4 linked regions of the Homo sapiens genome follow. The protein of the gene in region 4 interacts with the protein of the main gene of each other region in a pairwise test. Each region holds a gene or a part of one and is shown on either strand. Other genes may lie near its edges. The genes, in order: EXOC1, TRAF3IP1, HUNK and IFT81.

Region 1 (7,772 bases), on a different chromosome or scaffold from region 4:
AATGACTTTGCTCTTCCCCAAGTGCAGAATTTTAGTCAGCAGTATATACTACTGTTCTAAACTCCAAGCCCAGCAAGTTTGGCATCAACCTGTTCCTTCTGCTGTTGGAGTCTCTCTTTTGGTTTATATTCTCTATCTATTCCCAACACCATCTTCCTGGCTCAACACTTCATTTCGTCTGAATTATTACTTTAGGTTCTTAATTAAATTTCCCTCATTTAATCTTTTCCCATGCTTGAGGAATGCTGGTAGGTCCCATAGCTCATCTTTTTCAACATAATTTCTCACTGCCCTAGAATAGGAAATTTCTGCTTCGGTCACCCTTAACCTCATTGTTCTAGGACAAGCGTGTATTTTTCCCACCTTTGTCTGCACATCTCTCTCCCCATCCCTGGAATGCCCTTTCTCTTATTTCTGGTTTATTTAATTGCACTCATTATTTAAAATCAACTGAAGTCTGATATTGTCCATGAAGTTTCCCCCATGGTCTCGAGACAGAGATTTTCCTTGTCTATACTGCCACATGCTTAAAATTCATTTCCAGTTTAGTGTTTAATTTTTTGCTGATTGTTTTATGTATGATTCTTCCCAGTCAGATCTAAAGCGCATTAGAGTAGATGCTTATTAGGTAGGCCCCAGGTGCCTGGAATAGTGGAATGCTTGCTTAATAAAGAGGCACTTTATATTTCCTTAACAGAACAGATTATAAATCCACAGAGGGCAAATACCTCACTTGCAATGCTCATACTTCCTTGTTTCTATACTGTACATAAAGAAACTCAGGAAATAAGCATAGCATTTAACTAAATTGATGCTTTAGGCTACAGTATGGCTTAATATTTTTCCATACTGAAGTTTAAAATTTAGCTCTCCTTTATCCAAGTTAATAAAATGAATGTTATCACTGGTAAAGAGCACTGACTCATTTTCTGCTTTGCTAAGAATGTACTACAGTATTTTAAACTTGGGGAACTGAACACATGACCTCTTAATTCTAAAAGATAATGCTCTATTCTCAGTGAGTAAATGACGTCAAATCCATACCTTTGTTAGTCCTTCATATTTTCCATAATCTGTACTCTTTAGCCACTCCATCAGCTTGGCATATCGGAGCAAATCTCTATGAAATGGATGATGATTGGGTAAAGTCAGTTCAACAGAGTGTTGGGCAAGAGTCGAACTCTGATCATGACCCTAAAGTGAGTAAAATAAGTAAATAAATGTAATCAACAGTACAAAGAAACGTTACAATAAAAAGTCTAAACAATGACCAAAATGTGGCCAAGCCAAACCAATAAGACATAGAAAAATAATTAAGAATAGAACACAGAAAAATAAAAACCAAATACTTACACAACTTTTATATCCTGTGTATATCAAATGAACATTACCACCATAAGATAATCATAAATACGCAAGAATGGCACTCTGATAAATCAACTACCCATTCCGTCTTTTAAAGGAATGAAGATGGAACGTTTTAATGAAGCTTGTCTCTCTCATACCATATTTCACAATTTACCAAGCAAATGACCTTCTTGATATAGCTTGAATTAAGAAACACAAATAGAGAAATCATTCAAAACAGTCTACATTTATGGTATTCCCATTAGAGTTTGTAATATTTAAAACAACAGATAAAAAAAAGTAGAATATAAAGTCTTAGAGCTTGGAATTGGAACCTTGGTCATCTGAGTCTTACTTCTGTCTTGGAGCAGATTCAAATTGAAAATACAATTTCCCAACAACAAGCAAAAGGCAAACCAAGACAGATTTATTTGATGTAATTTTCACTCAATCTAATTTGCCTAGATAGCCAGAAGTTATTTGTCAGCATTTTGTGAAAACTGTATTAAAATTACACAGACTGCTAGAGTTTTGGAGCTAGTTAACTCATTTCCTGATAAGGTTACCTAAAGCTAATTATGAATGTGTATCATACTAGTTGGTACACATTAGCTAAATAAGCGTCCTGAATTTAAATTCTTTTAAGTTAAAAGGGATTTCTTTCACCTAATTTATATACTGTACTATATACACAAAATAACCTAGTGGTTATGAATTTTAAAAAATTTTCTTTTAAATACAGACTATTCAGAAGGAAACATTTCTGGCCTAGAGGAAATGAGGAGTTCCTTGGTAACTGAGAAAGAAAGATGGGAGTATAAGACATGCCAAGTACAAAAACCCACATCATTATCCATGTCCCTTCTTCATAAATGTTTTCAAATCAGTCTGTTGGAAAATTTTCTTCATGTGAGAATATATCCCAATTTAAAATGGAAATTAAAAAGAAAAAAGGACCCATTATACAGAAATTACATATAAAATGGTAGAAAACAACCAATACACTTCTCAGATTCATCTTACTGATATCTACTTAGGTTAACTTGGGAAACTGAACTAGAGATGGCAGAAAAATATCACAAAATGAAACTGACCAGTTCAAAATAACAAGAACTAGAACACAGGGGCAACAGAAGTTCACAGCTACCACAGATGTTATACACAAGGTATATTAATAGGTCCATAATCCCTTTCTGTAATTCTGACAGCCAAAAAGCTCTGAAAACTCAGACTAAGCTTGGCACCAAAACAATTTTGATGGTAAAATGTGACCTGAACTGACATGGGCCTATTTATAGTGCTTAGAGTGACTATTCATATTTTTTGTTGCAAAAACATGTGCTTGGAGTGATTATATAATATACAGTATATATACTGTATTGCTTTTCTAAAATCTGAAACATTCTAAAAACACTCCTGACCCCCAGAATTCTGGATAACGGAGCGTAGACCTATGTGGATATTCTTTTCTGGGTGGCTACCTGAATATAAAACAATCACATCTTCCAAAAGAATCAATGAGGACTAAGAGCTAAAGTGTTGAAGAATGGAACAATTCTGTATTTTTAGAATGCCTGGGCTACCATATCTTTTCTGTAAGGGCTAACAATAAAGATGAACAAAATCAATAATATTAAGTAAAATACACAGGCATTACCATTGGACTATTATCTATTTCTATGTTGCCAAAGGTCAATATAAACATTCTATTACAGAAATGTTTTCTAACCAAGATGCCAGAAGGATAATCAGGATTCTACAGCATCACATGTATTAGATACTAGCCAGATATAGATATTATAGTTTTAGGTCTATAAATGTCTCCAAATTGTGTTTTATTTTTTAAAAATTTATTTTTATTAATAGAGATGGAGTCTTACTATGCTGCCCAGGTTGCCCCCAAACTCCTGGGCTCAAGTTATTGGCCCACTTCAGCCTCCCAAAGTGCTGGAATTACAGGTGTGAGCCACTGCGCCTGGCCTAAACTATGTGCCTTAATTGGTCACGCTGATTAAAGGGGAAGAATATTTGACAGACTTATATCATACAAATGTTTACCAAATAGTTTTTATTAGTAACAATGTATCGTTATCCAAAACAATCTTCCTCATTAATTTTTCTCAATGATTCAAGACTCAAAATTATTGTCTATGTTCTTCTACTACTGTTTACTCAGGCACAAATGTCAATTAACTTGTTCAAGGTAACCCAGCTAGGAGGTAGGAGAGTCAGGATTTTGAACCCAGGAAGTTTGGCTCTAGTGTCTGCACTCTTAAGCACTTTGCTATAGTGACTTTTTTAAAGAAATGATACATTGGGGTCAAAATTTGAATAAATTTTCAAGATTTGGAACTCCTTCTTTCTGTTATGGCATACTTACTTATTCTTTTCTTAAAAAAAAAATCTGAGCAAAGTTCCAACAAACCTCACAAAAATAGATCTTAATCACAAGTCTTTCTAAGCTTTTAACCAGAGATCATCAATCCGTGTTTACAAATATGCTTAAGGAAACAATTTTTGTAAAAGAAATTGAATGCTGGTGGTCTGCAATACAGGTTTTATTTTATTATAGCTTGTTTCTGTATATGTATGTTGAGAGAAAAATTTCTAAACTTAAGCATATGGTAAAAAGTTCCACAACTTCAGTTTTTTCCTGGTTGTACTTTTAGTTCAGTGCATTTCAGTTTATTTTCATTTTCTCTAAGTTATGTACATAATCAGTCTCATCATGTTGCTAAAGGCAAAAGTAGATAGAATCATGAGGTCTCTGTAGAACCAAAGGGGGAAACAAAAGGCAGAGAGTAGTTATCAAAATAAATCTTTCAAAAAACAACCAAAACAATTTTTTAAAGGACATATTCTTTATGCAAATATTTCCTCAATTTCATTAGCCTTAATTTGACTGTTTTCAATATCATAATCCTAATTAGTGTAAACTGACCAGATTCTCATTCTTGATCTTTCTAGATACAGAAATCCCTAGTAAATGTAAAAATTATGGGCAAGAGCCTATAATTTCAGGGGAAGTTGAGTGTGTAAGATCTGAAAGATCTAAAAGAAGCTAACTACTCTTTATGTAACATTACTCTCATATTATATTACAGTGATTATTATATTAAAATACACTTCAAGTTTCACTTAAGTATAGATAACACAGAAGTATTAATAGGAAAGTTGCATTACAGATAGCATGCTCTGGATCAGTCATTCCCAAATGCAAGATGTTTTTCCTGGCCTATAGCAATAAGAAAAAGTACAATGAAAGAAGTGAGTCCTTCATAAGGGTAAATGTATTAATTTTTAAAATCGGAAAGGAAATTCTTATTCTTTTAGTGCCAAAATGTCATTTTTAAAATGAAAAGATAATGAAAGTGGATAATAGTATTTCTTTTTAAAGGTCTTTATTTGGTAAAATAAAAAAATTGGTGATTTGGTCAGTCTCCGAATTTTATTTCTTTTAATTTTACTAATTTGTGAATTTTAAAAAGACTGAGAATCAATGCTTTGAAATTACTGTTATATTGTGAATAGATTATTTTCACTGGATTCTTCAGTACAATATTTGTAAATGTTGTAACTATACATTTGCTATAAACTGTATTGCATGGACTCGTTCAAGTCCTACCTTATCTGCAATTCCTTCCATATCTCACTCCTTAAATTCTCAATAAACTCACTTTTGATTAAACCTTTTTAGCACTTACAGTCCACAGTTCTACAATTAGCAATTTATTACATACATTGCTAATGTACATTAGTCTTAACTCCTTACAAAGAGTAAGTACATTAGTTTTAATTCCTTCTTACAAGCATCTTGAGGGTAGGAACTATTGCTTATTCTTATATATGGTAGACAGTGAGTACATAATAAGCATACAATGAAAATTCTGTGATTGCCAAAGAGGTGTACCATATTATTTTAATCAATTTTCCCAGCTTGTCTCCCTACCAGGAATAGAAATACCCATGTTTCTCAACAATTTTGCTAGGTGACCTGATGCACTGAATGCAACACTAAGAAAATCTTTCTTATGTGTGGGATATCTTCTTCCACCGTTTTTGGCACACCCCAGGTTGTCGCAGCGTTCTGATTTTTAACATGCATCACTCACATGTAATAACACATATCAGCTTTTCAGAAATGGGAAGCATTCATTTTAAACGAGGCCATTAGTTTACAAGGCAAGAAGCAAAATCATAAATAACTGCATGTTACAACAAACAGTTAAGGGTACAGAAAAGACTATTGTTTACTGGCTGGTATTTTCAATACTATCTAACAAATGTGGATAACATAATTGTCAACAGTGTCATTTTTAAAAACTAAGGAATTGTATAGAAATAGATGTTATTGAAGTAAGTACCTAACAAAAACATGAATTAGTATTTCCTATGTGACATTTAAGCTTACTTTTTTCTCGACACTTTTCAGTCAAGTGGAATGTTAAGGGAATCTCTCTGATTCCCCCCTACCGTGCTTTTAGTTAGGTGGTCTTCCTTTACACTCCCACAGTCTCGCTGTCATAACATTTATCCCTCTTGAGTATATTATTTGTTTGTCTCGCTTCCCTAGACTGTGAACTACTAGAGGACAGGATTGGTCTCTCATTTATCCCAAGTTAATGTCTGGTATGTACCTCAATCACCTGGCAATACTAAATAAATGAAGGATTAATATTACTACTATTACTAAATGAAGGAGTAATATTACTATTTATTACTAAATGGAGTGAAAAAATGACAGAAAGAAAAGCAAGCAGAATGAGATTAAATGCTTTTTTGGCCAAAATAGTCTCTACTATGGGACATTTAAAAACTGCTACGAATGTGGTTAACAGGTAGCTTAAATCAGTAAGTTATAATCTGTAAAGATTCGGCTGCTGTTAAGTTTAGCAAACTTTATAGAAAAAAAAAAACAGAATCAGAGAAGCTTGAGCCAAATTTGATGTACTCACAGGAACCGAAAGAAAGTAGGACCTGTTATAGAGTTGAAGGAGGGCCTGAGTAAACTAATTGGAAATAAAATATAGTAAATACAATTGTTTTAGAATATTGCAAAGTGAAAATAAAGTAAAAATCCATTGTTTTCAGGCAGTATTTCTTGATGAACGAGATATTCCCCCAATTTTTTTTCATTCTATAACTCTAATAAAATAAAAGGGACTTTTAAAAGAGATGAAAAAATAAGAAACCTAATTTATTGTATTAGATATTAAAATGGCTTTTATTCAAATCCCTCAAAGGTACTCTTAATATTATTAATAACAATATTATTACCACACTCTTAATTATAACATCCTTTTCCATATAAAAATATAGGTAAAGCATTTATATGAAGATTAGATCAACTGAAATTTGCAGTTGAGCTAGTCATTTTCTTAACAATTATACTATGTACTAAGTACATAGAACTTACAAAACATTTAAAACACTGAATCAAGTCCTGAGTCTCACCTCAAAATACTGAAAAATAAAACAGGTCCAATAGTAAATATCTAACAAGTTTGGACTTACTTTATAAATAAAAATATCTAAGTAGTATATGCAATTCATATGCATAGTTATTTGATTTCTAGAATCAGAGAGCATCAGCTGAAAGGAACTAGACTGTCTACCAAAAGAGGCAGCTGAGGCCCAAAGTACATCTATGAGCAAAGAGGCTCCTATTTCAAAATCTTAAAATCAAATATGTGAAGGAATTGACTGCAACCCCAATTAAACATATTAACATTTTTGTGGAAATGTAAGGTTAATACATAAATAAGCTATAGGAACATGCTCGTTTTAATAATAAAATAAAATTACCTGTTGAACAAAAACATTGTTGAGGTGACTGGCCAGTCTCCGGGCAAAAAGCTCTCGCAAATCACTGAATCGCTGCTGTTGCTGTTTGACTGCCAGAAGCAAGTCATGGCCTGACACAGAACGACATTTTGTGACCAGTTTAATGGGTAAAAAGATTTCCTTGATGTTTAATGGAACATTAAACGTATCTAACGTTTTGAAGAACCCAAAAGTTTTATGGGTGTATTCATTTACATGATAAAAGTTAAGCAGGAGAAAAATGGGATTTCACAGTAGTTCTCAAAGTGTGGTCTTGCCTCACCATCGCCTGGGAACTGTTAGAAATGTGGATTCTAAAATCTCAGCCCAGATCTGCTGAATCTGGGACTGGGGCCAGGCAATCTATGTTTTTAACAAGACCTCTAGGGATTCTGACGGACACTCAAGTTTTGAAATAATTGCTCTCGTCTAACCAAAGCACCTACTTTCTGCTGGGTTCTGTGGATAGTACTAAATAAAGATCATGGTGTTGACTATAGTCATTGAGGACAATTAGAAGGAGGAACTGAAGTAAAAAAGTTCCTAGTATCAATAGAAATAAGTTGGGAAATCAGTGAAACTTGAATAGCTAATAATGTAAC
Region 2 (7,772 bases), on a different chromosome or scaffold from region 4:
TACTTTTGGCCGGGTGCAGTGGCTCACATCTGTAATCCCAGCACTTTGGGAGGCCAAGGTGGGTAGATCACTTGAGGTCAGGAGTTCAAGACCAGCCTGACCAACATGGTGAAACCCCATCTCTACTAAAAATACAGAAATTAGCCAGATGTGGTAGCAGGCACCTGTAATCTCAACTACTTGGGAGGCTGAGGCAGAAGAATCTCTTGAACCTGGGAGGTGGAGGTTGCAATGAGCTGAGATTGCACCACTGTACTCCAGCCTGGGTGACAGAGTGAGACTCCATCTCAAATAATAATAATAATAATAATAATAATAATAGTAATAATTCTCTTGAAGGATTGCAGTTGAAATTCAAATAAATCTCTAAGGTCAATAATGTGTATTTATATGACTTATAATCAATAACTATAAATTTAAAAATCACTAGAAGTGCAAATGCCCATGTTTCTGAGGACAAGTGTGTGTGTGGTAAAATGCAAATAAAATAGTCCCAGAAATAACTGTTCGCTTGAGAAATCTTGGAAGCATTTTCTGAAAAGTGTGTGCGCACGTGAGCACATGAAGTGGCCCAACGCTGAGCTGCCTTGCCAGAGGCCTTCCTGCCAGAAGGCAGCTGAGTAAACAGTCTTTAGCCCGCAGGAAAAGGGAGGCCAGCCAGGTAGGAGGCAGGAGGGGACAAGAGGGGTGACTTTGTGTCCCCTTGAAACACACGTGGGCTGCCACCTCTCTGTTTGCCTAACTTGGAGAAACTGCCTTTAGACACTGGATCCATGGTGAGGGTGCCACAAAAAGGTGCCGTGGGTGGTTCTGCGATGTTCACAGCAGACTTCCTCTGAGCTCAGGATCACCAACCTTTCAGCGGAGAAAAGAGCTTTGAGATGAATTTCATAGCTGTGGGTTATTTATATTCTTAAAATGGAGATGGAGAAGGAAGTGTGTCGATGAGGAAGGTAAATTACATTTTAATGAAAGAACTTGCCTGGACATGACAGCTTGTTAGGTGGTGCTGATAATATCTATAAATACTTTTTTCACTGTGCGCTAAAGTATTCCAAACATGCCTGGCTAAGAATGTTTCATAGCCAACAAGTTGACAGGAGGTAAAATAACTGTATCAGTGCACAGGAAAAAGCACCCATGCCTTGTCCTGGGGGCACTTGCAACTTGCTTCTTTCTGGGGAATAAATTTACGATAATGGTTAACATCTACTTGAGGGTTTACTATGTGTGAGGCACTGAACTGCTTACTTTATATTATCCCATTTAATGTTACCTGAAGGATAAATATTATTATTTCCATTTTCTTGTGAGGAAGCTGAGGTACAGAGAGGTCATTCCAAGGTCATAAAGTTAGGAGGTGGTGAGGCTGGGTTGTACCAGCCCCTGGAACCACAAGGCACTGACTGCGGGTCCTGCTGCCCCCGAATCCTCCTATGGTCTAGGTGGTTTTAGGTCATATTTTGTGTAATGACAGATTTCCTTTCCTTTTCTTTTCTTTTTTCTTTTTTGAGAAAAAAGGGTTTCGCTCTGTTGCCCAGGCTGGAGTACAGTGGCACAGTCTTGGCTCACTGCAACCTTCTCCTCCTGGGCTCAGGCAATCCTCCCTGCTTAGCCTCCTGAGGAGCTGGGACTACAGGTGTGCACCACCACGCCTTGGTAATTTTTGTATTTTTTTTGTAGAGGCAGGGTTTCACCATGTTGGCCAGGCTGGTCTCAAATTTCTGGCCTCAAGTGATCTGCCCACCTCAGCCTCCCAAATTGCTGGGATTACCGGCATGAGCCAACACACCCAGCCATGACAGATTTTCAATAATTAACACAGCAGGGGCAGTCATCTAATTCCTGTGTGGGGGTAATAGATCCTCAAACTACTATTGGATTAAAAGTCTTTAAAAACAAGGTTGTTTTTATCTGGAAAATTGTTGATATATCTACATGAGCAACATATAACTCGAGGTCTGTCATCAGAGAGGTGTGCTTTTTAAAGCAAATAATCACGGCTTGATGCGTTCACGCTGCCCCTGCTGTGTTAAATGAAAGCTTGAAAATTGCCAGAGTGTTGGTGTTTTGCAGCAATGTATTCCAGTGCCTTTATGCTAATAATAAAACCTGTCCTGACTATCACAATCCCAGCCCAAGTGTACTTATTTTAAAGTCTTAATCTCTTAAACATAAATTATAAGCTTTAAGATTAGTGTTCCAAATTCTGCTTGGTCCTGTGCAATAGAAATATGAGGAGTTTGGCCAGATTACCTCTTAGTGTCTTTTTCTACATTGTAACTCTCCAATTTTGTAAGATATTTGTTTATATTAGTCTCCTACCTTAAGGTCCATGCCCTAAACATTTTTATATTAGAGTTAACACGATGCCAAATGCACAGGAATTACTTGATAGTCATTATGAATGGGTTTTAATAGAAGTTTGAATTTCTTAACTAAGTCAATGAGACATTTACTAATTTGTGTATAATAAAGACAATATATTTTTCTCTTGGGAAGTAGCTTATTTTATTGAATTCATTTCAGTCATTTAGCGTCTTAATTTAAAGGCATTTTATATAGCCTTTTAGAAATTAAACGTTTGATATAACCATAGATTCATATCCAGTTATAAGAAATAATAGACGCCCAGGTGTGGTGGCACGTGCCTGTAGCCCCAGCTACTTTGGCAGGCTGAGGCAGGAGAATCGCTTGAGCCCAGGAGTTTGCGTTCAGCCTGGGCAACACAGTGAAACCCTGTAAAGAAAAAATAGTAGAAAAAGAAATAATAGAGATATACTGTATGCCTTTTGCCCACTTTCCCCCAGTGATAACATCTTACAGAACCATAGTACATTGTCAACCAGGATATTGACAATGAAACAGGATCCAGAACATTTGTATCACCTCAAAGATCCCTCTTGTTGCCTTTTTATAGCCACACCCTCTTCCCCCACCTCGAACTCTTCCTTCACCCCCAGCTACCACCATCAGTTCTCCATTTCTGTAACTTTGTCTTTCCAGAATCTTGTGTAAAAGGAATCCTACAGCATGTAACCTCTTGGGATTCACTTTTCTTATTCCTAATCCTCTGAGGGCCATCCAGTTTGTTCCATGGATTAGCAGTCTGTTCCTTTTTTTTTTTTCTTGAGACGGAGTTTTGCTCTTGTTGCCCAGGCTGGAGTGCAATGGCGTGATCTCGGCTCACTGCAACCTCGCCCCCCCACCCGGGTTCAAGGGATTCTTCTGCCTCAGCCTCCCGAGTAGCTGGGATTACAGGCATGCGCCACCGCGCCCAGCTAACTTTGTATTTTTAGTATAGATGGGGTTTTGCCATGTTGGTCAGGCTGGTCTCGAACTCCTGACCTCAGGTGATCTGCCTGCCTCAGCCTCCCAAAGTGCTGGGATTGCAGGCATGAGCCACCATGCCTGGCCAGTCTGTTCCTTTTTATTGGTAGATAGTTTTCCCTGGTGTGGATGCACCACAGTTTAGTTAACCAATTACCTATCGAAGGACACGGGGGTTGTTTCCAGTTTGTGGCTACTTTGATTAAAGCATCCGCATGCATTTGTATACAGGTTTTTCTATAAACATGAATTTTCATTTGTTTGGATAAGTGTCCAGGAGTACAACTGTTGGTTGATACTGTAGTTGCATGTTTAGTTTTATAGGAAACTGCCAAACTGTGTTCCAGAGTGGCCATATCTTTTTACATTCCTGTCAGCAATGAGTGATCCAGTTTTCCCTAACCAGCATTTGGTGTTGTCACTATTTTTTATTTTAGCCATTCTGATTGTTGTGTGGTGATGGCTCATTGTGGTTTGAATTCGCATTTCCCTAATGCCTAATGATTTCAAACATATTTTCATGTGTGTGTTGGCCATCCTTATATCTTCTTCAGTGAAATGTGTCTTTTGCCCATTTTCTAATTGAATTATTTGCTTTCTTGCTGTTGTGTTTTAAGAGTTCTTTGCATATTCTAGCTATAAGTCCTTTATTGGATGTGTGATTTGCAGTTGTTTTTGCTCATTCTGTGACTTACCTTTGCGGCTTCTTCCCAGGGTCTTTCGCAGAGCAAACATTTGAAATTTTTGTCATGCTTTTGGTGTCAAGTCTTCGAACTCTTTGCCTAGTCCTAGATCCCAAAGACTTTTTCCTCCTGTGTTTTTTATCTTAAAGTTTTATAGATTATATTTAAATCCATAGTCCATTTCGAGTTAATTTTTGTTTAAGATATGAGATTAGGTCAACGTTTTGTTTGTTTTTTGGCTTATGGATGTCCACTTAACCCAGTGCCAAATGGTGCAAAGCTCTCTCTGCCACTAAATTGCTTTTGTACCTTTGTCAAAGATTGCTTGGGCATATGGACATATTCGTATGGATCTACTTTTGGATTCTGTGTTCTGTTCATTTGATCTATGTCCCTCTGTCAATACTGCACTGTCTTGATTACTGTAATTGTATAAAAAGACTTGAAGCCTACGCGGTGGCTCACACCTGTAATCCCAGCACTTTGGGAGGCCGAGATGGGAGGATCACCTTAGCTCAGGAGTTTGACACCAACCTGGCCAACATGGTGAAATCCCATGTCTACTAAAACAAAAATTAGCTGGGCATGCTGGTGTGCGCCTGTGATCCCAGCTACTTGGGAGGCCGAGGCAGGAGAATCGCTTGAATCTGGGAGGCAGAGGTTGCAATGAGCCAAGATCACACAACTGCACTCCAGCCTGGGCGACAGAGTGAGACTCCGTTTCAAAAAAAAGCCTTGAAATTGGGTAGACTGGTTATTTCTGTCTTTATTCTTTTTCTGAAAATGTTTTAGCTATTGTAGTTCCTTTGCCTTTCTGTATACATTTTAGGATAATCTTGTCTATACAAAAACATTGGCTGCAAGTTTGGTAGGATTTGCATTAAACATGCGTATCGGTTTGGGGAAAATTCATGTCTTTACTGTGTCCTGTCTTCCATTCCATGGACACAGTGTGTCTTCTCATTTATTTAGATTTCCTTTGATTTCTTTCATCTGCATTGTTTCGTTTTCCATTTCCAAGTCCTATACATGTTTTGTTAGATTTACAACTAAGGATAGTCTTCTATTGAACAATTGTCAATGGCATTGTATTTTTAATTGCAGTGTCCATGTTTTCATTGCTCATACATAGAAATATAGTTGATTTTCATATGCTCATCTTGTATACTACAACCTTGCTGAACTCACTTATTAGTTGTATGAGTTTTACGTTTTACTTAAAGTCCCAATTATTTAACACTTTCTATGTGCCAGGCATTATGCTAAAGCTTTCTTGTACTTGTCCAAGCCAGTAAATGGTGGAACTAGGATCTTCATACATAAATCATTTATCCACTTCATTAGTTCATTTCACAAATTCTTAGGCAGAGCTTATGTGAATCACAGTGAATCTAGGCACAAGGTCCTGCCCTCCTGAGCCCACAGTCTGAAACTAGCAGAAGTAATGCAAGTGAATATGTAGCTATGATACGTTCAAATTAAATAAGTTGATTTGTTACAACTGAGTGCATTTACTAGCTCATTCTGTAAGTGGGTGAGGCAAGGAAGGGCCCCTTACCGGTCTGGAGTGGGTGGGGGGGTGTCCAGGGAGGGCTTCCTAAAGAAACAGTGTTGCAGGGCATGATGGCTTACATCTGTAATCCCAGCGCTTTGGGAGGGCAAGGCAGGAGGATCACTTGAGCCCAGGAGTTTGAGAGTAGCCTGGGCAACATAGTGAGACCCTGGCTGTAAAGAAAGAGAGAGAGAAGAAAGAAAGGGAAGAAGATAACCATCTGATCTTTGACAAACCTGACAAAAACAAGCAATGGGGAAATGTTTCCCTATTTAATAAATGGTGCTGGGAAAACTGGCTAGCCATATGTAGAAAGCTGAAATTGGATCCCTTCCTTACACCTTATACAAAAATCAATTCAAAATGGATTAAAGACTACATGTTAGACCTAAAACCATAAAAACCCTAGAAGAAAACCTAGGCAATACCATTCAGGACATAGACATGGGCAAGGACTTCATGTCTAAAACACCAAAAGCAATGGCAACAAAAGCCAAAATTGACAAATGGGATCTAATTAAACTAAAGAGCTTCTGCACAGCAAAAGAAACTACCATCAGGGTGAACAGGCAACCTACAAAATTAGAGAAAATTTTCGCAACCTTCTCATCTGACAAAGGGCTAATATCCAGAATCTACAATGAACTCAAACAAATTTACAAAAAAAAAACAACCCCATCAAAAAGTGGGCAAAGGATATGAACACACACTTCTCAAAAGAAGACATTTACGCAGCCAAAAAACACATGAAAAAATGCTTATCATCACTGGCCATCAGAGATATGCAAATCAAAACCACAATGAGATACCATCTCACACCAGTTAGAATGGCGATCATTAAAAAATCAGGAAACAACAGGTGCTGGAGAGGATGTGGAGAAATAGGAACACTTTTACACTGTTGGTGGGACTGTAAACTAGTTCAACCATTGGGGAAGTCAGTGTGGCGATTCCTCAGGGATCTAGAACTAGAAATACCATTTGACCCAGCCATCCCATTACTGGGTATATACCCAAAGGATTATAAATCATGCTGCTATAAAGATACATGCACACGTATGTTTATTGCGGCACTATTCACAATAGCAAAGACTTGGAACCAACCCAAATGTCCAACAACGATAGACTGGATTAAGAAAATGTGGCATATATACACCATGGAATACTATGCAGCCATTAAAAATGATGAGTTCATGTCCTTTGTAGGGACATGGATGAAACTAGAAACCATCATTCTCAGCAAACTGTCGCAAGGACAAAAAACCAAACACTGCATGTTCTCACTCATAGGTGGGAATTGAACAATGAGAACACATGGACACAGGAAGGGGAACATCACAATCCGGGGCCTGTTGTGGGGTGGGGGGAGGGGGGAGGGATAGCATTAGGAGATATACCTAATGTTAAATGACGAGTTAATGGGTGCAGCACACCAACATGGCACATGTATACATATGTAACAAACCTGCACATTGTGTACATGTACCCTAAAACTTAAAGTATAATAATAATAAAAAAATTAAAAAAAAAAAGGAAAGAAGGAGAAAGAACTGATGTTAATTTTCCCAAGCTTATTGATTCTTATCAACTCACATCAGTTTCTGACATTCAGAGATGTCTGTGATCAAAGCTCATATGAAGAGAATTCTAAATGTTGCATGGCAAAGAACCCAAGAACTCCTGGCCCAAACCGCATGCAGCTCCCCACTCGTCTCTGCGTCCTCCTCACCTCCTTCACCTGCTGCTGTCTCAACTTGACCCCTTCCATCTGGCCCCTGACCCCTGGACTCTGTGGCCTCCCTGAGCGGCCAGCACAGTCACGTCTAAGTCGACCTGACCATCTGCCTGCTGGGTGCTGCTGGCTGCTGCTGGCTGCTGCTGGCGCTGGCTGCCCTGCACATTCTCCATGCCCTCCTTTCCATGGCACCAGTTTCTGCCTCTCCTTTGGGTTTCTTTCCCCTTGCCCCCTGGCAAGCTGGGTTTTGAAGTCATTTGGGATGGAAGGTGGGCCATTTGAAGAGCTGTAGGGTCAGGCCCTCATTCTGCCAGTCCATTTGGGAAAAATCTTCCATGTCACTAAGCTCTTGTAACAATAGCTACAAAAGTTGCTTGTTAGTTGGGAACTGAAATCTGCCTGTATAGAGATTTGCCCTCAGATGGATTTCCAGGTAAAGACAGACCCCCATCCCCATTGAGCAGGGAAGGAG
Region 3 (7,772 bases), on a different chromosome or scaffold from region 4:
ATAGGCAAATCCATAGACACGGAAAGTAAATTAGTAGTTGCCAGGGCTGGGGGAAGAGGGAAATGGGGAGTGACTGGTAATGGGTACAGGGTTTCTTTTGCGGGGGGTAATAAAAATATTCTAAAATTAGAAGGTGGTGATGGTTGCACAACTCTGTGAATACACTAAAAAACACTAGATTATACACTTTTAAATGGTGACTTTTATAGTATATAAATTTATTAATTTAAAAATATTTAAACATACATGTGCACACGTGTGTGCATGTTTATATATATACACACACATAAATATGTCATGCCTCAATCTTGCTTTTTAAAATAAGCACCAATTAAAAATGATTTCTATGCCGGGCGTGGTGGCTCACGCCTGTAATCCCAGCACTTCGGGAGGCCGAGGAGGGCGGATCACCTGAGGTCAGGAGTTCAAGACCAGCCTGACCAACATGGAGAAAGCCCATCTCTACTAAAAATAAAAAATTAGCCGGGCGTTGTGGCACATGCCTGTAATCCCAGCTACTAGGGTGGGTGACACAGGAGAATTGCTTGAACCTGGGAAGTGGTTGCAGTGAGCCAAGATTGCGCCATTGCACTCCAGCCTGGGCGACAAAGCGAGACTCAGTCTCAAAAAAAAAAAAAAATATTTCTGGTTGTTCTCAATAACCCAGAGTAATTATTGATCATAATTCCACAAAGGAAGAACCATGCATTTATTGGTGAAGCCAACACTCCCTTGGAGGAAAAGAGGGAGCTTTTATTTCTTTAAATTTGTTTGATTTTATTTTCATACAGTACTAAAAGCAGGCACCCACTACCAATGGCAACATTGCCAAGAACGCTGTTTCCATTCACTTTCTTTGTAGAGCCCCTTCCTAGGAAACAACAGGATATTAAAAACAAGCTTGATTTTCCTAACTATTTGCAAGACTGGTTTGGTTTGTGGAAAACACTCCTTGATTTCAAGGGCAAGTTCAAAATTCGAATGGTGATTCAATTTCATTGAATAAAACTGCTATTGAGTGTCTACTATGTGTAAAGCAAAGACAATGAAAGCACCATCATCCCTAGCACGAATCTCATGCCATTTTAACACTGGCTCTTTCAGGCACCTAAACAACTGGTCTCATGACTATGCAAACAAGAAGAAAAGCAGCTAACACTTACCTGATACCTACTAGGTAACAAACACTGTCCCAAGCTCTTCCCATATATTAACTCATTGACCTTTACTCCAACTGAGAGAGAAGTGTTATTATTATTCCCATTTTACAGATTAAGAGACCAAGGCTCAGAGAGGTTAAGTAACTTGCCCAGGGTCACATAACTGTTACAGGGCAGAGCCAGGTTGCAAGCCCAGTCACTCTGGCTTCAGATTCTACTCTTTTAACCCTCACACTGGCATTAACCCAATTCACAAAACAATTCCATGGAATAAAAATACAGAAAAATTCCCAGCCTGGCCAACATGGTGAAACCCCGTCTCTACTAAAAATACAACAAAGTTAGCCAGGCATTGTGGCAGGTGCCTGTAATCCCAGCTACTTGGGTGGCTGAGGCAGGAAAATCGCTTGAACCCACAAGGCGGAGGTTGCAGTGAGCCATGACTGCGCCATTGCACTCCAGCCTGGGCAACAAGAACAAAACTCCGTCTCAAAAAAATAAACAAATAAATAAAATTAAAATATAGACAAATTGTAAAACAGGCTGCAATTGCTCAGCCTTTCTCAGAGGCTCAGAGGGTGCCACAGCCCAGTGCCACCCACGGAGCACACAGTCAGCGATCACCAGCGTGGCCTGGCCCTTACCTGTGGACCACCCCGGCCCGGTGCAGGTGCTCTACGGCAGAGATGAGCTGTCGGATGTATCTGCGGGCTTCGGACTCCTCCAGCCGCTTCTTCTCATAGATCTTGTGCATCAGGTTGCCCCCAGGGCACAGCTCCATGACCAGGTAGTAGCTGTTTTCCGTTTCTAAAATATCAAGGAGCTGAGTGATATTGGGGTGGCGGATCATCTGCTGGATCTGACCCTCTCGCCGCAGGTTTTTGGTGACATAGGTGTCCTTTTTGGCTCTCTTCTTATCAATGACTTTTATGGCCACCTAAGGAGAAAACAAGAACATGCCTGTTATCAGACATTACAGACAATAGCGATGCCTTGGCTACTCACAGGAACCCAAGAAAAATGCTAGCTATGTCTCTGCAGAGGAGAAACACCTTACCTAAAACAGCATCAACAGAAAATATATATATACACATTTATATTTATGCATATACCACACAAACACACACACACACACACATATAGGTACAACATTAGGAAAAATCAAAAGGTCCAATTATTAAGGAAGACAATGGAATTTACCTAAGAAAACCTGAATGGCTGTCTGGAAGGCACAGTGCAGGATTAATGTCAAATTTATTTTTCTACAGGATGGGAAGATGAAATAACAATTTCTCTTCCAGCAAAGGGCTTGTCCCAGTCCCCCTCAGGACTCACCATCATCTCCCTCCAGGTCTGAGGACCCCCAGCCACTTCAGAAACAGCTAAATCTTCCCCCAATCTTAGTTCCAAGGCATGGTTGGGGGACACTGCCCAAAGATGCAGCACCCCTAGCCTTGCCCGCCCCCGCTCCGCCCTGCCCTGTGCACACCCTCAAGCCTCAGGGTCTACCTCCTTCCCTTGATGAATTGCCTCCTAGGGAAACTTGGCCCCCACTGTCAGGACCCAACCTTTGTTGTTACTCAGGATCACATTTCTACTACCCTCAGGAAGCTCCTCCTGGGCCATTGCCCCTACAATCAACTTGTCATAAGAGGTACGGTGGGAGGGAGGGAAGAACAGAAGGAAGGATGGAGGAACAGAGGGAAGGGAAGATTGTCTATTCCACCCAAATCCGCATCTGTCCCCAGTCCTCTTTCCTTTAGGGGAAGTCACCTCTCCATTGTATTCACCCTTTTCCTTCCCTTCCCTCCCTCCCTCCCTCCCTCCCTCGCTTCCTTCCTTCCTTCCTTCTTTCCTTCCTTCCTTCCTCCCTCCCTTCCTCCCTCCTTCCCTCTCTCCCTCCCCTTCCTCTTTCCTTCCTTCCTTTCTTTCTTCTTCTATCTCTCTCTTTTTCTCTTTCTTTCCTTCTTGACAGAGTCTCTCTGTTGCCCAGGCTGGAGTACATGGTGCAATCATGGCTCACTGAAGCCTCAAACTCCTGGGCTTAAGTGATCCTCCCACCTCAGCCTCCCAGGAGCTGGGACTATAAGCACACACCACCACGGCTGGCTAATTTTTTTCTTTTTGTAGAGACCGATCTCCCCATGTGGCCCAGGCTGGTCTTGAACTCCTGGCTTCCAGTGATTCTCCTTGTCAGCCTCCCAAAGCACCGGCGTCAAAGGCGTGAGTCACCACGCCGGCTGCCCTGTTCCTTCTTTTTTCTTCACTCCCCTCTCTAATGTGATCAGCCACTGACGTCAACACATGATGTCAATGTCTTCTTCCAGCTGTCTCGCCACCTGTCCTTCCTCTCTGTTCCCCTACACCACCCGCCTGGTTCATTCCAACCACTGCCCCAGTGCCCAGATGCCCTGTCATGAACTGAGACATGAGCATCCCAGGAACACCTTCATACACAGCTATGGAGCCTCCGGGTGCAGGATGAAGTCAGTGGACCTTCCATTTCTTGTTATTTCTCTTTTTTGTAATTACATTTTGTACCTGTTTCACAACGCACTCAATATGCATTATATGCAATATGCCATACACAGAGGTACAAGTACAGAAATAAATAATAAGTAAATAAATACAGATGAATACATGTTTTCAGTGAGGGGCTCAAATATTATTTTGTGGACATAGTTCATGATAAAGAAAAAAACAGAAGTCTGAGATCCAATGTACAGCATGGTGACCAGGCTTAACAATAATGTATTGCACACTTGAAAACTGCTAAGAGGCCGGGCGTGGTGGCTCGTGCCTGTAATCCCAACACTTTGGGAGGCCGAGGAGGGTGAATTACTTGAGGTCAGGAGTTCAAGACCAGCCCGGCCAACATGGTGAAACCCTGTCTCTACTAAAAACACAAAAATTAGATGGGCGTGGTGGTGGATGCCTGGAATCCCAGCTACTCGGGAGGCTTAGGCAGGAGAATCGCTTGAACCCAGGAGGTAGAAGTTGCAGTGAGCCAAGATTGTGCCATTGCACTCCAGACTGGGCAACAAGAACAAAACTCCGTCTCAAAAAAAAAGAAAGAAAACTGCTAAGAGGCTGGGCACGGTGGCTTGTGCCTGTAATCCCAGCACTTTGGGAGGCCAAGGCGGGTGGATCACTTGAGGTCAGGGGTTCGAGACCAGTCTGGCCAACATGGCGAAACCCTGTCTCTACTAAAAATATAAAAATTAGCTGGGTGTGGTGGTGGACGCCTGGAATCCCAGCTACTCAGGAGGCTGAGGCAGGAGAATCGCTTGAACCTGGGAGGTAGAGGTTGCAGTGAGCAGAGATTGTGCCATTGCACTCCAGCCTGGGCAACAAGAACAAAACTCCATCTCAAAAAAAAAGAAAGAAAATTGCTGAGAGATTTTTTAATGTTCTCAAGACACACACAAAACTGATAACCCTGTCAGGTAATGGACATGTCCATGAGCTTGACCATGGTAACCATTTCACAACATGCTCACTTATCATAACCTGCATACTATAAGCACACGCGGTTATCTGTCAGTTAAACCTCAATAAAGCTGAAGAAAACCTTAAAAAACAAAAAGAAAACAAAAAAGGGAAAAAGTCCAAACTAAAGGCAAACTTTAAATTAAACAAAATAGTGAACGAATCAATAAAAGTCTGGCCACCCCCAGGGTGAACTAAGGCATGGATGTCACCTCTTCTTGAGGCTCCTCCTGGCCTCTTGAATTCATTCTACACTCTGCCTCCAAATCAGTGGGTCTAGAACTCTGATTTCTTGCAGAAGCTCTTGAGGTCTCACTGCTGCCTATGGGAGCACCCAAGCATCTTCTCCATCAGCCCCACCACCACCCGGTCCCAACTCCTCCCAGCTCTCCCTCCTGGCATGTCTTGTCACTCCCTGGGACATGCATTCTATCACTCTCCAGGTACTCCAGCCACCCCCTTCCCCCACTCAAGCCCCCAACCCCAGGTCCTTCAGAGGCTAACCTCCCTACCAGAGAGACTCCCCCGCACCTTCCTTCCCTACGTCCCTATACAACAGCATCTGCAGTAAGATGTAAGTCATGGCTTAATGCAGGGACCACTCCCCCTTCACGACACACAGCGCTTCATAAACAGCAAGTGACTAATAGTGACTAACCAATGGAATCACCAAAGCAAAGATGGCTATAAACAGCATAATGTATTATCTCCTCTATAGAGCAGTGTCTCCTTCTTTTTTTTTTTTTTTTTTTTTTTTTTTTGAGATGGAATCTCGCTCTGTGGCCCAGGCTGGAATGCAGTGGCACAATCTTGGCGGCTCCCTGCAACCTCTGCCTCCCGGGTTCAAGCAATTCTCCTGCCTCAGCCTCCTGAGTAGCTGGGATTACAGGCACCCGCCACCACATCCAGCTAATTTTTGTATTTTTAGTAGAGACAGGGTTTGGCCATGTTGGCCAGGCTAGTCTCAAACTCCTGGCCTCAAGTGATCCGCCCACCTTGGCCTCCCCAAGTGCGGGGATTATAGGAATGAGCCACCGTGCCCAGCCCAGAGTCTCATTTTAATAGGGAGGTTCAGGCCCTTAATCCAAAGATGGGAGTAACAAAGAGTCAATCAGCCCCCAAGGGGACCAGACAGGCTAGAAGAGCCCCTGCCATCCACACCTCACAGCATGGGGCCTGCACTACCTCAAGTCAGCTCGGGCTGATGCTCTCAGCCCCCAGGAGGTAAAGTTACACTCTGGCTGTGTCTGGCCCCAAGTAGTTCAAGGGATGCTAAACTAACAGCTTTGTTAACTGTTACCCTCCAAAAACACATAGACACACACATATTTCATATCCATCCTCTTGGGGAGGTGGAGAAAAAAGAATGCTGAAAAGTACAATTAGGCATTGTCTTTGCTCCACTCCGTGTGGCAGTATCTAAAAAATTACACCCTCTGGCAATGAAATTCTTACAAGTACTGTAAACAAACAAGTCTAAAGGCCCAGCAGTAATACAATCTGCCTTTTTAACAGAGTACACAATTATAGTTAAGATACCTTATTGAGTTCTTCAATTGCCTGTACCAGGTTGAATAATGGCCTAATCTCTGGATCATGTGACTTTATTTGGAAAAAGGGTCTTTGCAGAAGTTATTAAGTGAAGAATTCTGAGATGAGATTAGCCTAGATTACCTGGGTAGGCCCTAAATGTCCTCATAAGTGTCCTTATAAAATAGAGAAAGAAGGAGTTTTCACACAAATAAGCAGAGGGGGCAGCCACAGGAGGAAGGAGGCAGACATTGGGGTGAGGGGCGACAAGCCAAGGAATGTTGGCTGCCACTGGAAGCCAGAAGAGGCAGGGAAGGATCCTCCCCTAGAGTCTCTGGAGGGAGCGTGGCCCTGCCAATACTTTTTAAGACTTCTGGCCTCCAGAACTGTGAGAGAATCAATTTGTTACTTTAAGCCACCAGAGTGGTAATTTGTTATAGCAGCCACAAGGAACAAATAGCTTCCCTGAAAATATAAGGAATCTATCTGATGCCCTTTGGGACGCATTTCCAGGCATGGAGAGACCCTCCTTGGCAGTGGGGAATGACGCCACCTTTCACCGGCAGCCTCTCTCTCCTCCTCACTCTAGCCCTTCAGCGTAGTCTCAGGAGCCTCTGACAATTCCTCATTGACTCCACCGTCCCCTCTGCTCCCGCACGTCCATGAGACCCACGGAGAGCAGAGTCTTCACGAACTCCCTCTCAGGCTCCACTCCCAGGGCTGAACCAGCCCATATCAGGGTTTTGCACCTCCATGAGCTATGTCAAAATAGGACCCTATGAAGCTCCACAATTGGTTAGCAAGTGTCTACACTGCAGACCACTCTGAACAGAAAGGACAGCCCAGGTGGCTCTTTCCATGAATCTAGACCTCATTATCACAGCCGTACGATTACAGTCATCCTAACAATTGGTGTTGGTTCCCACATGCCAGGCTTAAGGGTGCATGCTAGGCTTTTCTTTAGGCAGTTCTTCCTGTACCTTCCAACTTCTGTGCAAATGCAGTATTTCCAAGCATTTCTCCCCACTCTCTCACTTCTTGCTCTTTCTCTAGCCCATCCTCCTCCCTTTCCTGAAGGTGAAAGGACAAGGCAATGAGGTGATCTATGGTGCTGGGGAAATACCCCCTGGAAACCCCATCCAGCCCCTCATCCTCATACCACTCATTCCAGCCCCTCCTCCTCATACCGCTCAGTCCAGCCCCTCAACCTCATACCGCTCAGTCCAGCCCCTCCTCCTCATACCGCTCAGTCCAGCCCCTCATCCTCATACCGCTCAGTCCAGCCCCTCCTCCTCATACCGCTCAGTCCAGCCCCTCATCCTCATACCGCTCAGTCCAGCCCCTCCTCCTCATACCGCTCAGTCCAGCCCCTCCTCCTCATACCGCTCAGTCCAGCCCCTCCTCCTCATACCGCTCAGTCCAGCCCCTCAACCTCATACCACTCAGTCCAGCCCAGGCCTTGGGCCGTCGTACCAAGGCCTTCCGTGAAGCAGGCCCAGTGTGGTAAGTCGAAAAATGGCCTCCCAAAGATAGGCCCACATCCTAATCCCTGGAACCTGAAAATGTCATCTTTAGGGGGATGGGACTCTGCAG
Region 4 (7,772 bases):
AAACTGTATAATATATAGCATAGTACAATAAAAGATTGGCCATTGAAATATTTTATTGTTAATTACAATGAAAATGAAGAAACATAATTTACATGGAAGAATATTTAAATAATTATAGAAAAAGTGCTATTATGACCCTTTCAAATTATAACCTAATTCTTTTATATCCCGCAATACGCAAAAATAACATGTGCTGAGCCAGATACATTGTTGGGTCATATTTTACCTTCTAAGCATTTAAGAGACCCATGAACCAAATGATAACACAAATAAAATCTAACCCAGGTGCTCTTTTATACAGATGATCATGTATTTTTTTTCTTTTGGAATACTTTTAATGCTATATATATACATATGTATTTTTTATTTTTTTGAGATAGGGTCTTGCTCTGTCACCCAGGCTAGAGTGTAGTGGCACTATCTCAGCTCACTGCAACCTAAACCTTCACAGCTCAAGTGATCCTCCCACCTTAGCCTCCTGAGTAGCTGGAAGTAGCTGGCATCACAGGTGTACATCACCACGCCTAGGTAATTTTTGTATTTTTTTTTGTAGAGACGAGGTTTTGCCATGTTGCCCAGGCTGGTCTCTAACTCCTGGGCTTGAGCAGTCACCTGCCTCAGCCTCTCAAAGTGCTGGGATTACAGGTGTGATCCCAGCCTCTCAAAGTTCTGGGATTACACTGTACCCAGAACAATTTATATTTCTATTATAACAGTTCATAAATGATAATTCATTATCATTTGTCAGCTTCAAGCCAATGAAGACATTACTAAAAGCACCACAAGTTAAAATCTAAAAAAGAGTAACAGGCCAGGTGCAGTGGCTCACGCCTGTAATTCCAGCACTTTGGGAGGCCGAGGTGGGTGGATCACCTAGGTCTAGAGTTCGAGAGCAGCCTGGGCAACATGGCAAAACCCTGTCTCTACTAACAATACAAAAATTAGCCGGGCATGGTGGCACATGCCTGTAGTCTCAGCTACTTGGGAGGCTGAGGAACAAGGATCGCTTGAACCTGGGAGGAAGAGGATGCACTGAGCCAAGATCGTGTCACCATCACTGCACTCCAGCCTGGGGGATAGAGGGAGACTCTGTCTCAAAAAAACAAAAGAAAAAAGAAACAAAGTATCTACCTACACATAAATGTTTTAAGTTTTCCATGTTTTGGTATTTTTTATTTTGTAAAGTATTATTAGTTTACAGTTAAGTGGCAATTTATATTTTTAAGATTTTAGTTTTCTTATTTTTGCAGTTGGACAACTATACACACAGATTTTCAGTGAATAACCATCTTGTTTTAAATTCCCAGCCTAGAGAGATTTACAAAGTTTATTTCATATCTTTCCATTTACACATTTACAAATTCTGACTTGAATGTTTTTTGTTTTTTGTTTTAGATGAAATCTTGCTCTGTCACTCAGGCTGGAGTGCAGTGGTGCATTCTGGGTTCACTGCATCCTCTGTCTGCCTCCTGGGTTCAAGCGATTCTCCTGCCTCAGCCTCCTGAGTAGCTGGAATTAGTCGCACACTACCAGCTCGGCTAATTTTTTGTATTTTTAGTAGAGACAGGGTTTCACCATGTTAAGGCCAGGCTGGTCTGCAACTCCTGACCTCAAGTGATCCGCCTGCCTGGGCCTCCCAAAGTGCTGGGATTACATGCGTGAGCCACTTCGTCTGGCCTGGCTCAAATTTTTAACACATGGGCTTTCTGGTTTAAGTAATCTGTGTAATAGATTGCATAATACATCTGGCCCAAAGCATAATACATCTGGCCCAAAGCCTTAAAACTATTTTTAGTTCCATCGTGCTAACCATATATTAACATGTAAAATTTTATTAACTGCAAATTCTAAGTTTTCCATTCATTACTTCACTATTCCTTCTTTTTTCAGGATTAGAGAAAGGAAGAGAAGAGAAAGTGTTTAATAAATCACACTGTAGGCTGGGCGTGGTGTCTCACACCTGTAATCCCAGCACTTTGAGAGGCCAAGGCAGGCGAATCACCTGAGGTTGGGAGTTTGAGACCAGCCTGACCAACATGGAGAAACCCCATCTCTACTAAATATACAAAAAATTAGCCGGGCATGGTGACCCATGCCTGTAATCCCAGCTACTCTGGAGGCTGTAGAGATGCTTGAGGTAGGAGATTCGTTTGAACCCGGGAGGCAGAGGTTGCGGTGAGCCAAGATCATGCCATTGCACTCTAGCCTGGGCAACAAGAGCAAAACTCCGTCTCAGAAAATAAAAAATAGGCCAGGCGTGGTGGCTCATGCCTGTAATCCCAGCACTTTGGGAGGCTGAGGCGGGCGGATCACCTGAGGTCAGGAGTTTGAGACCAGCTTGACCAACATGGAGAAACCCCGTCTCTACTAAAAAAATATACAAAATTAGCCGGGCGTGGTGGCATATGCCTGTAATCCCAGCTACTTGGGAGGCTGAGGCAGGAGAATGGCTTGAACCTGGGAGGCGGAGGTTGCAGTGAGCCAAGATCACGCCATTGCACTCCAGCCTGGGCAACAGGAGTGAAACTCCATCTCAAAAAATAAATAAATAAGTAAATAAACAATAAAAATAAATAAATCACACTGTAATTAGTCAGTCATTCCTATGTGGTTTTCGATTAAATCTACATCCTGACTTCTTTGTCTGTTAGATGACCAGCTTTTCCATCCTCAGGTTCTTAAGTGTACCCCATGTAATTAGAGATGCATGGAATCAAAGACTAAAATGTTTTTAAAGATTTAAAATTCTCAAATAATATTTTCTCTATTTAAAAAAAAGTTTCTAATTCTAGCAAATATAAACTGATTTATAGTGACAGAAAGCAAATCCATGGTTGCCTGGGGAGGGACAGAAAGGCAGAAGGGGGCAAGAGTGAGACATTAAAAAGGGTCAGTGGAAATGTCTGGGGTGATGGATAGGTTTGTGATCTTGATTAAAAGCTGATGGTTTCACCAGTGTATGCGTATGTCAAAAGTAATCAAGGATACACTTTAGGGCATGGGAGGAAAGGGGAAGAGCATTCAGACAAATACTTAATGTGTGCGGAGCTTAAAACCTAGATGACAGGTTGATAGGTGCAGCAAACCACCATGGCACATGTATACTTATGTAGCAAACCTGCATATTCAGCACATGTAACCCAAAACTTAAAGTAAAATTAAAAAAAAAAATTTAATACATTTTAAATATGTGCTACTTATTTATTTATTGAGACAAAGTCTTACTCTGTCACCTAGGCTGGAGTGCAGTGGCACAATCATAGCTCACTTTAACCTCAAACTCTTGGGCTCAAGTGATCTTCCTGCCTCAGGCTCCTGGACAGCTAGGACTATCGGCATGTACCACCATGCCCAGCTAATTTTTTATTTTTTATTTTATTTTATTTTATTTTATTTTATTTTATTTTATATTTTATTTTATTTTATTTATTTTATTTTATTTTATTTTATTTTATTTATTTTATTTTATTTTATTGTATGTATGTATGTATGTGTTTATTTTGAGATGGAGTCTCACTCTGTCGCCCAGGCTGGAGTGCAGTGGCGTGATCTCAGCTCACTGCAAGCTCTGCCTCCCGGGTTCATGCCATTCTCCTGCCTCAGCCTCCTAAGTAGCTGGGACTACAGGCACCCGCCACCATGCCCGGCTAATTTTTTATATTTTTTTAGTAGAGACAGGGTTTCACCATGTTAGCCAGGATGGTCTCGCTCTCCTGACCTTGTGATCCACCCGCCTTGGCCTCCCAAATAATTTTTTATTTTTTGTAGAGATAGATTCTTGCTATGTTGCCCAGGCTGGTCTCAAACTCCTGGGCTCAAGTGATCCTCTTACCTTGGCCTCCCAAAGGAGTATGATTATAGGTGTGAGTCGCTGAACCATACCAAATACATGCAGCTTTTTCTTTTCTTTTTTCCTTTTCTTTTTTTTTTTTTTTTTTTGAGACAGAGTCTCCCTCTGTTGCCCAGGCTGGAGTGCAGTGGCACAATCTCAGTTCACTGCAACTTCCACCTCCTGAGCTCAAGTGATCCTCCCACCTCAGCCTCCCAAAGTAGCTGGACTACAAGCGTGCACCACCACACCTGGCTAATTTTTGTATTTTTTTGTAGAGACAGGGTTTTGCCATGTTGTCCAGGCTGGTCTTGAACTCCTGGGATCAAGTGATCTGCTCGCCTTTGCCTCCTAAAATGTTGGGATTACAGGTGTGAACCACTGCACCAGGGTTTGTGTGGTTTATTATATGTCGATTTTACCTCAATAAAGCTGTTTAAAACATAAAAACCAAGTTTCCATCAAATTTTAAATTACTCTCTTAAAAAATTTAACTTAGACCTTGAAAAATAGTCATATGTTTCTATGAAAAGTTTTAAAAGCATTATCTTTCAAAATCCTGGGTAAATTAAATACAAGGTCACTAAGATGTCAGCAAACTTTTATATTAAAAACCCTTTGAAAACATCTCACTGATCCTACTATAATCAAATGAGTGTCTTCTTTTATGTAATAAATCTCACAAATGTGTGGAGTATAACAATGATTAGCCTCAGCCGGGCCCAGTGGCTTACGCCTATAATCCTAACACTTTGGGAGGCTGAGGCGGGTGGATCACCTGAGGTCGGGAGTTCAAGACCAGCCTGACCAACATGGAGAAACCCCGTCTCTACTAAAAACACAAAAATTAGCTGGGTGTGGTGGCACACACCTGTAATCCCAGCTACTCCAGAGGCTGAGGCAGGAGAATCGCTTGAACCCGGGAGGCGGAGGCTGCGGTGAGCTAAGATTGCACCACTGCACTCCAGCCTGGGCAACAAGAGTGGAACTCCATCTCAAAAAAAAAAAAAAAATGATTAACCTCAGTGAATGTTTTATAATATAGCTGTTACTCTGCAAAAAGACAAATTATACTGTCATACTAAAAGTACTTTTTGTTATTTAAGTAAACATTAGCTTTTGTAAGCCTTTTTTGTTACTGAAAAGTTAGAGCTTATTAAACTAAATACCTGGATCAATTAAATATGTTTAATCTACCCTTTTCCTAGGCTGTGAACAGATCACTTTCCACTTCCCAGAAAGATGTCAACGAAGTAGGAACTCCTTAACCTCCTGCTCCCTGCTCTTGTAGAATTTCATAGATTACTACAGAAAGATGAATTAACCCTCTATCAGCTATTTACATTGGGATAGTTCTCCAGTACAAATGAGAGCTTTCCACTGCTCTTTCAGTTTGCGTGGTCTTTCTTCTGACAAGCAAAAATGCTTTGTAAAATGCCTAGGATGGATCTGGTGGTGTAATCTGGGCTGTTAGGACAGTTTATCCTCTGTGTTAAGCTAATGTAAGAACAGAGCCAGAGATACCTACGTCATTAGCACTGTTATTCTACAAACCAAAATATGAAAAACACTCGGTTTTAAGGATCCAGCATTCTATTCTTTTTCTTTATAGCCCTGGCTTTAAAACAATGATTCATAATTTTTCCAACCATCATTTTCACAACGTCCATGCTAAGTCCTTTATTTATTTATTTATTTATTTATTTTTCTTGAGACAGAGTCTCAGTCTGTCGCCCAGGCTGCAGTACAATGGCGCGATCTCGGCTCACTGCAACCTCTGCCTTCTAGGTTCAAGCAATTCTCCTGCCGCAGCATCCTGAGTAGCTGAGATTATAGGCACATGACATCATGCCCAGCTAATTTTTTTGTACTTTTAGTAGAAACAGGGTTTCACCATGTTGGCCAGGTTGGTCTCGAACTCCTGACCTCAAGTGATCCACCCGCCTCAGCCTCCTAAAGTGCTGGGATTATAAGTGTGAGCTACCACGCCCAGCCATGCTAAGTCCTTTATACAAGCACAAACCAGACAGCCTCCCTCCACAGTTGTTTTCATTATCTTCACTCTCTGATGTGAAAAACTGGTTAGGAATTGTTTGTTGTTGCTGTTAAGATGGAGTCTCGCTCTGTCGCCCAGGCTGGGCTGCAGTGGCGCGGTCTCGGCTCACTGCAACCTCTGCCTCCCAGATTCAAGTGATTCTCCTGCCTCAGCCCCCTGAGTAGCTGGGATTACAGGCACCCACCACCACGCTCTGCTAATTTTTGTATGTTTAGTAGAGATGGGGTTTCGCCATGTTGGCTAGGCTGGTCTCGAACTCCTGACCTCTCGCCACCTCGGGCTCCCAAAGTGCTGGGATTATAGGCATGAGCCACTGCACCCGGCCATCTGGTTAGGAATTTTTAAAAACATCTGGTGAAAACCCAGGGATGTCTTTATCAGGGCTCTCCTTCTCCAGCTAGGAAATGATGTTCCAAAATGCTGAGACATCACTTGATGATAACTAATTCTCACAAATTGATTTTTTAGGAAGATCGTGATTTAAATTAATATTTTCTAATCATCTATACCATATAATAATTTCCACTTACTTTCAGGCTTTGCATCTGCTGCAGCTTGGCGCATGCTTTTCAGCTGGTTTTGTACTCTTTGCAATCTTTGCACTGCATGAAATAGCTTTAAAATACAATTAAATAGATTACTTGCTTAGTCTACTGAAGCTTACCTCTCACTTAGGCAAGCAATGAAAAATACAAGTTCCATATAATTCTTATGATATAAAAGGAACAAATAATAAGAACTCGGAAAATTCCCATATTAAACCCAAAATGTAACTGGTTCTCTCAATACCTTTTCACATACATTTTTTAAGGAAGTTTTCACAAATTTTTCTTTAGTTATTTACTGAATTTGCGGTTTAAGGAAAAATACTTATCAAAGAAACACACACACCAGATTTTTCTTGTTATACATGGTTTTCTTAAGGCCAAGTAATGTTAACATTGATATAGTGATGTTTCAGAATCACAAACCAACGCCAAGTAACCATTCAGGGCTTAGGCGATGCAGCTTACTGCTGCAGTGAAACTACTTCGATGCCAAGTCAAGTGCCAGCAAAATCAAACATTTAAACTGCTGATTTAGTAGTAAATGAAGCTTATGTGAAATATATTTTAATGTATAAGTCTACTCAGATTTTAAAATAGATTTTTAATAAGTAAAAGTAATAATTTCTTAGCAAATTATTTTTCTTTAAGGCAAAGTTTAAAAACATGGAGTGTAGGTGATTTTGAGCCTTTTCATGACTTATTTGCCATTGTAGTAAACTGCAGAGGGTACTGTGATCACTGGAATAAAAAGAATGGTCTCATAGCCCTGGAATCTAAAAGCATCCTGTAGAGATTCTAGAAGTTTTATTAGCAGTTAATCTTACTGTTAACATTACAATGACTCTTCTGTAATGTTGGAACAACACGAGGTAAGCATAGGCCAAAAGACAGTGTATAGATACAATTCAGAGTATAAAACCCAAAAAGTGGTATTGTTGTTGCCACAAAATATTTATCTTTTTTTTTTTTTTTTTTTCAGACAAAGTCTCACTCTGTTGCCTAAGCTGGAGTGTGGTGGCGTGATCTCAGCTCACCTCAACCTCCACTTCCTGGGTTCAAGTGATTCTCCTGCCTCAGCCTCTGGAGTAGCTGGGACTACAGGCATGTGCCACCATGCCCAGCTAATTTTTATATTTTTAGTACAGACAGGGTTTCACTGTGCTGGCCAGGCTGGTCTTGAACTCCTGACCTCCTGATTCGCCCGCCTCAGCCTCCCAAAGTGCTGGGATTACAGGTGTTAGCCACTGCACCCGGCCTGAAATATTTATCTTAATTAAAAGAGTATTCCATTATGTTAGCAAAAGGAACGTGAACGTCTACAATTTTAAAACTCTTTTCT

The links.
Region 1: the proteins of IFT81 (region 4) and EXOC1 interact in a two-hybrid assay, tested with the Homo sapiens proteins (one large-scale study listed by IntAct).
Region 2: the proteins of IFT81 (region 4) and TRAF3IP1 interact in a two-hybrid assay, tested with the Homo sapiens proteins (one large-scale study listed by IntAct).
Region 3: the proteins of IFT81 (region 4) and HUNK interact in a two-hybrid assay, tested with the Homo sapiens proteins (one large-scale study listed by BioGRID and IntAct).

Annotation. Positions count from the first base shown.
Region 1 is NC_000004.12:55,871,339-55,879,110, reverse strand, and holds part of EXOC1 (exocyst complex component 1), read right to left. Parts: intron 7,263-7,772; coding exon 7,153-7,262; intron 6,357-7,152; coding exon of another isoform or gene 6,303-6,356; intron 1,195-6,302; coding exon 1,045-1,194; intron 1-1,044.
Region 2 is NC_000002.12:238,389,459-238,397,230, forward strand, and holds part of TRAF3IP1 (TRAF3-interacting protein 1), read left to right. Parts: intron 1-7,772.
Region 3 is NC_000021.9:31,918,793-31,926,564, reverse strand, and holds part of HUNK (hormonally up-regulated neu tumor-associated kinase), read right to left. Parts: intron 2,098-7,772; coding exon 1,805-2,097; intron 1-1,804.
Region 4 is NC_000012.12:110,135,504-110,143,275, reverse strand, and holds part of IFT81 (intraflagellar transport protein 81 homolog), read right to left. Parts: intron 6,501-7,772; coding exon 6,416-6,500; intron 1-6,415. UniProt on the Homo sapiens protein: Component of the intraflagellar transport (IFT) complex B: together with IFT74, forms a tubulin-binding module that specifically mediates transport of tubulin within the cilium. Binds tubulin via its CH (calponin-homology)-like region.